Regions from separate parts of the Homo sapiens genome. Here regions 2 and 3 are each reported to be linked to region 1. The links are microRNA targets in miRTarBase. Many come from high-throughput screens and were not tested one by one. Region 1 holds a microRNA gene; each other region holds the end of a gene's coding sequence.

Region 1 (3,265 bases):
AAAATAAAGCAATTCAGTTGAGCACATAATAGGTTTAAAATATAGTACTGACATAGCACATTGTCTATGATTAAGGAGGGTGATATAGAAAAATGCTTTTCAGTTTTCATCCTAGAACTCCAGGAATATATTTCTCCTCCATCTGTTGGCTCTTGTAGTGGGGAAGGGGATGAATTCTGGGAATGGCAAAGTGGTCTTTGGTGGAAAGAAGTAAGAAGAAACAGAGGAAATTACTTCTGGGTACCAGTGATGGTTTGACCCACCACATTACAACTGCTGAAAGAACAATATCTTCTTAGGTGCCCTGAATAAGGGAACAAGTAAGTTCCCTCCATTAGAACAACTTTATGTCCAAATAAGAAGTGTCTAAGGAGTACCCTAAAGAGATGCACCTTAAAGTTGAAGACTATGTATATAAATCTTCAGTTACTAATTGGGACTGATACTAAAAATAACTATTGCAGGTGCCAATACCTCCCAACACAAGTAGTTTCGGTACTGAGACTATCTCTGAGGACTTAAACACCAACTTTATCACATTTACATACGTAATAATCACCCTGTCCATTCTCACACATCTCTACTTGCTGGAGACTATTTTTCTTTATATCTAAAATGCTTTAGCACCTTTTCCTATAAAAGGCATATTTTTAGAACTCCACATTTTTTTTAAAGTAAAGTTTTATTTTCCTACAGTCCAACCGTGTGTGTTTAGGAAGGTACATGGGCCTAGAAATTCTGAGAAAATTATAGTAGTTGTTCTTTGCTGGGGTGCTCTCTTTCACTGATCCCTTTTCTTTCTTTCTCAATAACTCTCTTCATTTACATATTATTGCTTTAAAGGACCTTCAAAATATTCCCTCCTGACTATAAACTAGAAGCTAAATATCTGGTCACTCTGAGGCAGGAAAGCAAAAGAAATAATTAACTGTTAACATTTTATCCATGCAATAACAACAACAATAAAATACCTTGTTTGTGGATTAAAAGGCAAAGTCAATCCTAGAGGTTGCCAATACTAGTTACAAGGTATAATTTGACAGATAACACCAGGTCCAGACTGTAAGAAAAATACAGTCCAGATTCCAGAAAACATGGCCACCCTCTGGGGCCTGAGACATATAGCAGGGAAAGATTCTGTCCCTGACCTCTCCCCACCTAGCCCACCAAGGAATGGGGAGCTGTGGAAGGCAGAGTCAGGGCTGTAAGCTGGGCCTAGGGGAGCCAGGACTAGCACTTAGAATGGGACACAAAGAAGATGGTGCAGAGAGCAAGGGGACTAGAGGCCAGAGGTTGGCCCAGAGCTGCTTCCTGAGACAAACCAGAGGGAACAATAGACAGCAAAGATAGCTGAGCAATTAGGAGACCAAAATGAGGCGTGCGCTATGCAGACACGGAGCTCTGAAGACTGGAGGAAGGCTTCCTCCTTTTCCCACTGAGCAGGCCCCGGATATAGCCAGCGGGTATTCATATTGCTGCTCGGAAGCAACCCATCTCTCCTGGAATTTGATAACATAATCTCCACTCCTCTGGTCACCCTCTCCCTTCCCTCATTTCCCTCTCTCTATTGGAAATGGCAAAACAATGAAGGGGAACATGTAGCCACAACATAAAAATGTGGACAAAAATATTTTAAAAGTGAAGAAGATAGACTTAAATATACAGATGTGGATACATAGACTGCCCAGTGACCCCATCTCGGCAGAAATTCATTCTTGCATGGAATTCCTGAAGCCAAAGAAACAAGCAGTTGGTGAGACAGCATCCCCATGGAACAGAATAAGGCTGCCTGCTGCAAGGTTTGGCAATTCAAGAGGTATGGGGGGAAATGTACCCACAGCAATGTTCTCTCTCAAAAGATGTAACTTTGCAGTGTTGCTGTTTTTCCTGTTTTCTGTATTCTATGTTTGGCTGGCAGTGGGAGGGAGTGGGTGTCAGAGAGAGAAGACTGGGCTTTGGAGAGACAAGACAGTTGGCTTGAAAATACTGCTGAAAACTGTGGGGCTTGTGGATTTATTTTTCTCTCCTGTTCCATTCCTAACGGAGGAAAAGAGGAAAAGGCTGTTCCTGACGTGGAAAGGTGGGTCAGATGGTGAGGTGACCAAATCAGAGGGTTTGGCCACACTTCTGCTTCTATCCCTGTTAGCATAGTGCTCTTTCAAGTCCTTTCACCCTGTTTTGGTCACATATATCTCTGTTGCCTGAGGTTATGCCTATATACATCTGTAGGAAGCCCACAGCCTCTGATATAAGAGCAAAGGTACCTGACCCTCTTAAAGACGATGCTCCTGCTCCCTTTCCACCTTCCCAGACTCTGGACTCTTTTTACCTTAGACCATTCATGCTGCTATAACAAATGCTTTACAATGGGTGGCTTATACATAACAGAAGTTTATTTCTTACAGTTCTAGAGGCTGAGAAGTCCAAGATCAAGGTACCCACAGATTCAGTATCTGGTGAGGGCTTCAATTCCTGGTTCACAGATGATCTTCTCACTGTGTCTTTATATGGTAGAAGGAACTAGCTAGCTTTCTAGAACCTCTTTAAAAGGGCACTGATCACCTCCCAAAGTTCCTGCCTCATAATACAACCACATTGGGAATTAGGTTTCAATATATACATTTGGAGGAAACACAGACATTCAGACCATACTGCTACTTGCCCTGGGTTTTACCTTAGTTAACCTCCCTGGGCTTGGTCCACAGATTATGTGGAACAGAGTTTCTCAACAGTAACACCATTCACATTTTGCACTGGATAATTCTTTGCTTGTGGGGCTCTTGTGGGTTGAATTCTGTCCCTGCAAAAAGATATGCTGTAGCTCTAACCCCAGTACCTTAGAATGTGACCTTATTTGGAAATAACGTTGTTGCAGATATAATTAGTTAAGATGAGATCATACCGAAATAAGGTAGGCCCATAGTGTGGTATGACTGGTGTTCATTCATATAGAAAGATGTCCAAATGAAGATACAGACATACAGGGAGAGCAACATGAAAGCTGAGGTTGGAGTGGTGCAGCCACATGCCAGGAAACAGCAAAGCCACTAGCAAGTCACTGGAAGCTAAGAGAGAGGCCTGGAACAGATTCTCCCTCACAGCCCTCAGAAGGAACAACCCTGCTAACACTGCAATCTCAGACTTCTAGCCTCCAGAACTGTGAGACGATAAATTTCTGCTGTTTTAATCTGTGCGGATTGTGGTACTTTGTTACAGTAGCCACGGGAAACAAACACGGGCTGTCCTGTGCACTGTAGAATGCTTA
Region 2 (3,265 bases), not on the chromosome of region 1:
CCACTGCACTCCAGCCTGGTGACAGAGCGAGACTCCATCTCAAAAAAAAAGTATTATTTCTTGTAATTTCTCTTCACCTTCTGTGGATAACCAAAACTTTCCTGTATCTGAAGGTTATTTGAAGGCAACTCTGTGGTGTACTTAACCTGCTTATATAGTGGTTACAAAAAAAGTAAATTTGTATATTGAGATGTTTTTGTATCTTGAAGCTAAGTGATGCTGCTATCTTTTTAAGAATGCTTTCCAACTAAAACATTCAGGTATCTTGGCACTTATATGAAAACGCCCCCCCCCCCCCATCCCACTGAAACTTGCTGAAAAATCTTTCCTTCTTTTACCAGTTGTGGACATCGGATACCCAAGGAGACGAAGCTGAAGCAGGAGAAGGAGGGGAAAATTAACCGGCCTTCCAACTTTTGTCTGCCTCATTCTAAAATTTACACAGTAGACCATTTGTCATCCATGCTGTCCCACAAATAGTTTTTTGTTTACGATTTATGACAGGTTTATGTTACTTCTATTTGAATTTCTATATTTCCCATGTGGTTTTTATGTTTAATATTAGGGGAGTAGAGCCAGTTAACATTTAGGGAGTTATCTGTTTTCATCTTGAGGTGGCCAATATGGGGATGTGGAATTTTTATACAAGTTATAAGTGTTTGGCATAGTACTTTTGGTACATTGTGGCTTCAAAAGGGCCAGTGTAAAACTGCTTCCATGTCTAAGCAAAGAAAACTGCCTACATACTGGTTTGTCCTGGCGGGGAATAAAAGGGATCATTGGTTCCAGTCACAGGTGTAGTAATTGTGGGTACTTTAAGGTTTGGAGCACTTACAAGGCTGTGGTAGAATCATACCCCATGGATACCACATATTAAACCATGTATATCTGTGGAATACTCAATGTGTACACCTTTGACTACAGCTGCAGAAGTGTTCCTTTAGACAAAGTTGTGACCCATTTTACTCTGGATAAGGGCAGAAACGGTTCACATTCCATTATTTGTAAAGTTACCTGCTGTTAGCTTTCATTATTTTTGCTACACTCATTTTATTTGTATTTAAATGTTTTAGGCAACCTAAGAACAAATGTAAAAGTAAAGATGCAGGAAAAATGAATTGCTTGGTATTCATTACTTCATGTATATCAAGCACAGCAGTAAAACAAAAACCCATGTATTTAACTTTTTTTTAGGATTTTTGCTTTTGTGATTTTTTTTTTTTTGATACTTGCCTAACATGCATGTGCTGTAAAAATAGTTAACAGGGAAATAACTTGAGATGATGGCTAGCTTTGTTTAATGTCTTATGAAATTTTCATGAACAATCCAAGCATAATTGTTAAGAACACGTGTATTAAATTCATGTAAGTGGAATAAAAGTTTTATGAATGGACTTTTCAACTACTTTCTCTACAGCTTTTCATGTAAATTAGTCTTGGTTCTGAAACTTCTCTAAAGGAAATTGTACATTTTTTGAAATTTATTCCTTATTCCCTCTTGGCAGCTAATGGGCTCTTACCAAGTTTAAACACAAAATTTATCATAACAAAAATACTACTAATATAACTACTGTTTCCATGTCCCATGATCCCCTCTCTTCCTCCCCACCCTGAAAAAAATGAGTTCCTATTTTTTCTGGGAGAGGGGGGGATTGATTAGAAAAAAATGTAGTGTGTTCCATTTAAAATTTTGGCATATGGCATTTTCTAACTTAGGAAGCCACAATGTTCTTGGCCCATCATGACATTGGGTAGCATTAACTGTAAGTTTTGTGCTTCCAAATCACTTTTTGGTTTTTAAGAATTTCTTGATACTCTTATAGCCTGCCTTCAATTTTGATCCTTTATTCTTTCTATTTGTCAGGTGCACAAGATTACCTTCCTGTTTTAGCCTTCTGTCTTGTCACCAACCATTCTTACTTGGTGGCCATGTACTTGGAAAAAGGCCGCATGATCTTTCTGGCTCCACTCAGTGTCTAAGGCACCCTGCTTCCTTTGCTTGCATCCCACAGACTATTTCCCTCATCCTATTTACTGCAGCAAATCTCTCCTTAGTTGATGAGACTGTGTTTATCTCCCTTTAAAACCCTACCTATCCTGAATGGTCTGTCATTGTCTGCCTTTAAAATCCTTCCTCTTTCTTCCTCCTCTATTCTCTAAATAATGATGGGGCTAAGTTATACCCAAAGCTCACTTTACAAAATATTTCCTCAGTACTTTGCAGAAAACACCAAACAAAAATGCCATTTTAAAAAAGGTGTATTTTTTCTTTTAGAATGTAAGCTCCTCAAGAGCAGGGACAATGTTTTCTGTATGTTCTATTGTGCCTAGTACACTGTAAATGCTCAATAAATATTGATGATGGGAGGCAGTGAGTCTTGATGATAAGGGTGAGAAACTGAAATCCCAAACACTGTTTTGTTGCTTGTTTTATTATGACCTCAGATTAAATTGGGAAATATTGGCCCTTTTGAATAATTGTCCCAAATATTACATTCAAATAAAAGTGCAATGGAGACCTTGGGGTCTTTATTTCCAGGAGAAAAGATACCTTCTGCATCTAGGGCAACAATCCTTTTCCCTCGCAGCTCTTTCTTTTACCTCACTTACTGATTTCTCCTGACCCCCAAGCCAAGGAGGTAAAATAATTATATATATATATATATATATATATATATATATATAAAGTAATTATATTTTATAGCTAGACTGAAGAGGTGGGAATTTTTTTGTTGTTTTTTTTTTTTTTGGAGACAAGAGTCTTGCTCTGTCACCCAGGCTTGAGTGCAGTGGTGCGATCTCGGCTGAGTGCAACCTCCGCCTGCTGGGTTCAAGCGATTCTCCTGCCTCAGCCTCCCAAGTAGCTGGGATTACAGGTGCCCGCCACCACACCTGGCTAATTTTTGTGTTTTTAGTAGAGACAGGGTTTCACCATGTTGTCCAGGCTGGTCTTGAATTCCCGACCTCAGGCAATCCGCCCATCTCAACCTCCCAAAGTGCTGGGATTACAGGCATAAGCCACCGCGCCCAGTAGAGATGTGATATTATTCAAGTAAATAAAACCTGAAACTTGGCACATTTGCCTATTTAATGTGCATCAGTCATCTGAACTAGGTTGATCCTGGAATAATGAAAACACTTCACTAGTATTAACTAATGTTTTCTACATAGTAGTTCCCAATAGATTAAGGAAAATTTCCAACCTGAGATTCTTTGTTTTGGAATTTGAATAATGTGTTTGTAACTATTCCTTGATTGTCCCAAA
Region 3 (3,265 bases), not on the chromosome of region 1:
CCCATGTCTTTTTAAAAGCATGTTTTAAGTTATCAGGATATAATTTCATCCTTATTCATTAGTCCTTTTCATCCTTTATTCTTTTAGGGAAGAATACAGCTGTCTTCTTCTTTGTTAGCACTTTGCCAATTGAGAAGTATCCCAGTGTTACATAAAAAGCCTTTCTCTTAGCAGTATTAGTTCATGAGCTACCACTAAGTTTTGCAAGCCATTTTCTAAAATGGTCATTTAAAATACTATGTTTTCTTATGAAACAAGTTTACATTTAAAATTTAAAAGGCAGTAACAAAGTTTCACTTCGTTCAATGTAAAACTTTAGCTCCGCCTTCAAAACACTATGGTTATATTACTTATTTAAATGTGGCCTGCACATTACTTCTCGGCCTTTTGGCTAAGATCAGGTGTAGTTAAGATCAAGTTTAGTATCTGTTCTCATCAGTAAATGTGGCCTATGTTGCAAATTCAAAACGTTATTTCTAAAATTTTGCTGTATCAAATAAACTACATCTCAAATTTGACAGGCATGCCAACCCATACCCATTTTGTTTTATTTTCTCTCCTAACCACAGCACAAATAATGACTTCTTAAATTGGTTACAACTAGCAATAATATTAGGTAGATGGTTCAAGAAAGAGACTTTCAAGAATAATGATGGGACTTCTTAAAAATGATCTTAACATTTTATTGCTGTCTATACTTATCATATATGTAGTGCAAATAATGGCTTCTGATGGTTATAAAGCATTCCTGAATTATAGACTACGGCTATACACTTGACATACCTGCTTTATATAACATACAGTAATATTTAGACCTAATACAGAAATTCAGCTACTAGGAAAATTCTAATATACTGTATATAAAAAAGCTCTCTTCTTAGTTTCCCAGGGAAGACTAGCACAGTCTTAACTAATGATTAGTGAAATAATACAACCACAAATAGTAATAGGAGCTTGAGAAAAATATTTCTTTAAAAATGAATCACACACAAACACCTACCATTATACATACATTATAATCAGGCACAATTTTTCAACTGTGTTCAGTTATATGCTAAGAATGTGCATTACAAAGTTTAGCAAAATTAGTGAAAAGGGAAGCAAGTTCACCTTAGTGTTACACTTTTTCTTCAATTAACTAGTAAACAGTTCAAGTTCTCACAAGCAATACAACACCTTTTTTATTTTTCACAGTTATTGAAATCAGTCAAATATTAAATAATTTAATTCGGAAGTATTATTTATGCACACAAACTACACCTGTAACAGCATGACCTTTTACCTGAAAAATAAAGGATGAAATATTACATTTATTTATTTACATATTGCCCATAATACTGATAGGCTTTTTTTTTAATGCTTTGTTTTCTAAAACTTGTATTGTTTTTAAACAAAAATAGATTTGAAAAGAATGAACCACAACAGTGCTACCAAAAAGTCACATCTTGTTACCAGACATCACTGTCCTTACAACAATTCAACTAATAAGATTTAAGATTTAACTTCATCCTAATGTATCAGAACATTAAAAAAAAAAAAGTCTCAATGTACCTATTTAAATAAATCGTGCTTCCATAATAATATTCTTTAAAAATGAAAAACAGTAAAGAGCACACATTTTTATTTACTCACAACACTGAATAATTAATGTAAACTTTTTGAATTTTTTTTTTCTTTAGACATTTTTCCTCTAGAGTAACTTTTCAAGGCCTTCTCATGAACAGCCTTAAGTTTTATTGTCAAAATAAATGCACTTATTTTGGGAAACAGTTTGAAGTAAGTAATAAGCATTTGCCACTGTACTTACAACTTCTCTTGAAGTTCGCTTTCTATTTAGGTCACTAGCTTTTAAATAAAGCCAACCCTGGTTCTGCGTTACTTACTACATTTTACCTATAGTCATTCCCACAAAGGATGCAATATTATATTAGAAAGAAATATTACTTTAAATTTGTTGAAAAATAGAAGGACCAATTTAGAGCTCTGACCTAGGTTCAGTCCTGGAAATGGGTCTTTCATAAATTCAGATCCAATTACTTCCACAGTTTTATTACTGTTCAGTTTATTACTAACCTGACAAGCCTAATTGGGTAACATTTCACTCCCTCATTGTGTTTTATACAAAATGCTGTAGGAGAAAGTTAATAAAACACTATATAAAGTATTAATTTTCTGTACCTTATAGTTCTTAGCATTAAAGGTGTTCTGTTAACTCTGAACATAAACATAAAGTAATCCTATTATCCAAATATGTAGTTTGGATTCTATTTCATTAAGCAACTGTCATTTCTACTACTAAATGCTGCCAACATTCAGTGAAAAGGCAGGTTAAAAGAAGCAGCTATACTTCACTTGCTTCACACAGAGGTCTCATTAGGCACTCAATTGGCTATTCTTTTTTCACTGAAAGAATAAACCTTCACTTACCCTTTCTCTGTGACTACCTCTTTCCCAGTATATTGGTCACATATTATCTGAAAAACTTAAATAACAAATATACTTTTTAAAAGAATGTATATTCAATAAGTTTCTATTTAATTCAATCTAATCTGCTCAATTAGAAATTTAATTCTGCCACAAAATTTTTTTAAAGCAAAGTACTGAATTCCCAATCCAAGATTCCTTTATATATATATATATATATATGCATCCTAAATTACCATCTTTTGAGATGTATAATTTCTTAAAACATACTATGTGCAAAGTTACTTTTAACCACAAAACTTCAAACAACTGCTGCCTTTAAAATCAAGCAACATCCAATACTCCAGCAGCTACAAGTTGCCGTGAGAGCCAGTCCAACCCTTCATACAGTCCCATACCACTTCGAGCATCACAGCCCTGAATATACCAGCTACGGCCACAGCATAATTTATGGAGACTGAGTAGTTCAGTGATTTCTTCTACTGACAGTGCTCCAGCAACATCCTGAAAGATATATACACATATTTTTTATCAGTCCATCCAAATTATAATTTTTCTAATTATCACCATTTATAGAGAAATTTGTTGACAGTGTTCTAACAGAAGCCTAAACAAAAAACCTAGATTCATCTTTCAGTAATTATTCTGAGATTAATAAGAATAGAAAAAATTAGTTTGGTTTAACTAATTTATATGTGTGTGTATGTATATACTTTGTAAGGCTAGCTTAACAATGAAATCAATAAAGTCCTTGCAACCTAAAAGGAAACATACTGCCTAAGTAATTTTTTTATCTTTTGAGACAGAGTCTCACTCTGTCACCCAGACTGGAGTGCAGTGA

Evidence for each region. The annotated mature microRNA hsa-miR-6083 reads CUUAUAUCAGAGGCUGUGGG and lies in region 1 at 2,234-2,253, opposite strand. An mRNA with a match to its seed (bases 2 to 7 or 8) in the 3' UTR can be bound and repressed. Matches are read on the target gene's strand: a 7mer-m8 pairs with bases 2 to 8, a 7mer-A1 pairs with bases 2 to 7 and ends in A, and an 8mer does both.
Region 2: miRTarBase lists YWHAZ as a target of hsa-miR-6083. Seed matches in the 3' UTR shown: 7mer-A1 at 2,681-2,687.
Region 3: miRTarBase lists TRIM23 as a target of hsa-miR-6083. Seed matches in the 3' UTR shown: 7mer-A1 at 2,624-2,630 and 7mer-A1 at 788-794.

The regions. Positions count from the first base shown.
Region 1 is chr3:124,373,396-124,376,660 of GRCh38, reverse strand. MIR6083 (microRNA 6083) reads right to left here and starts at 2,329; the gene lies at 2,224-2,329. All of the region lies in intron 10 of KALRN (kalirin RhoGEF kinase), which reads right to left.
Region 2 is chr8:100,917,829-100,921,093 of GRCh38, reverse strand. It overlaps YWHAZ (tyrosine 3-monooxygenase/tryptophan 5-monooxygenase activation protein zeta), which reads left to right. Exons shown (of 6, transcript NM_145690.3): 6 at 342-3,265. The coding sequence ends at 401. Among named protein-coding and RNA genes, the nearest start is that of YWHAZ, 33 kb to the left of the region's middle.
Region 3 is chr5:65,589,021-65,592,285 of GRCh38, forward strand. TRIM23 (tripartite motif containing 23) reads right to left here. Exons shown (of 11, transcript NM_001656.4): 11 at 670-2,928. The coding sequence ends at 2,749. Among named protein-coding and RNA genes, the nearest start is that of PPWD1, 27 kb to the left of the region's middle.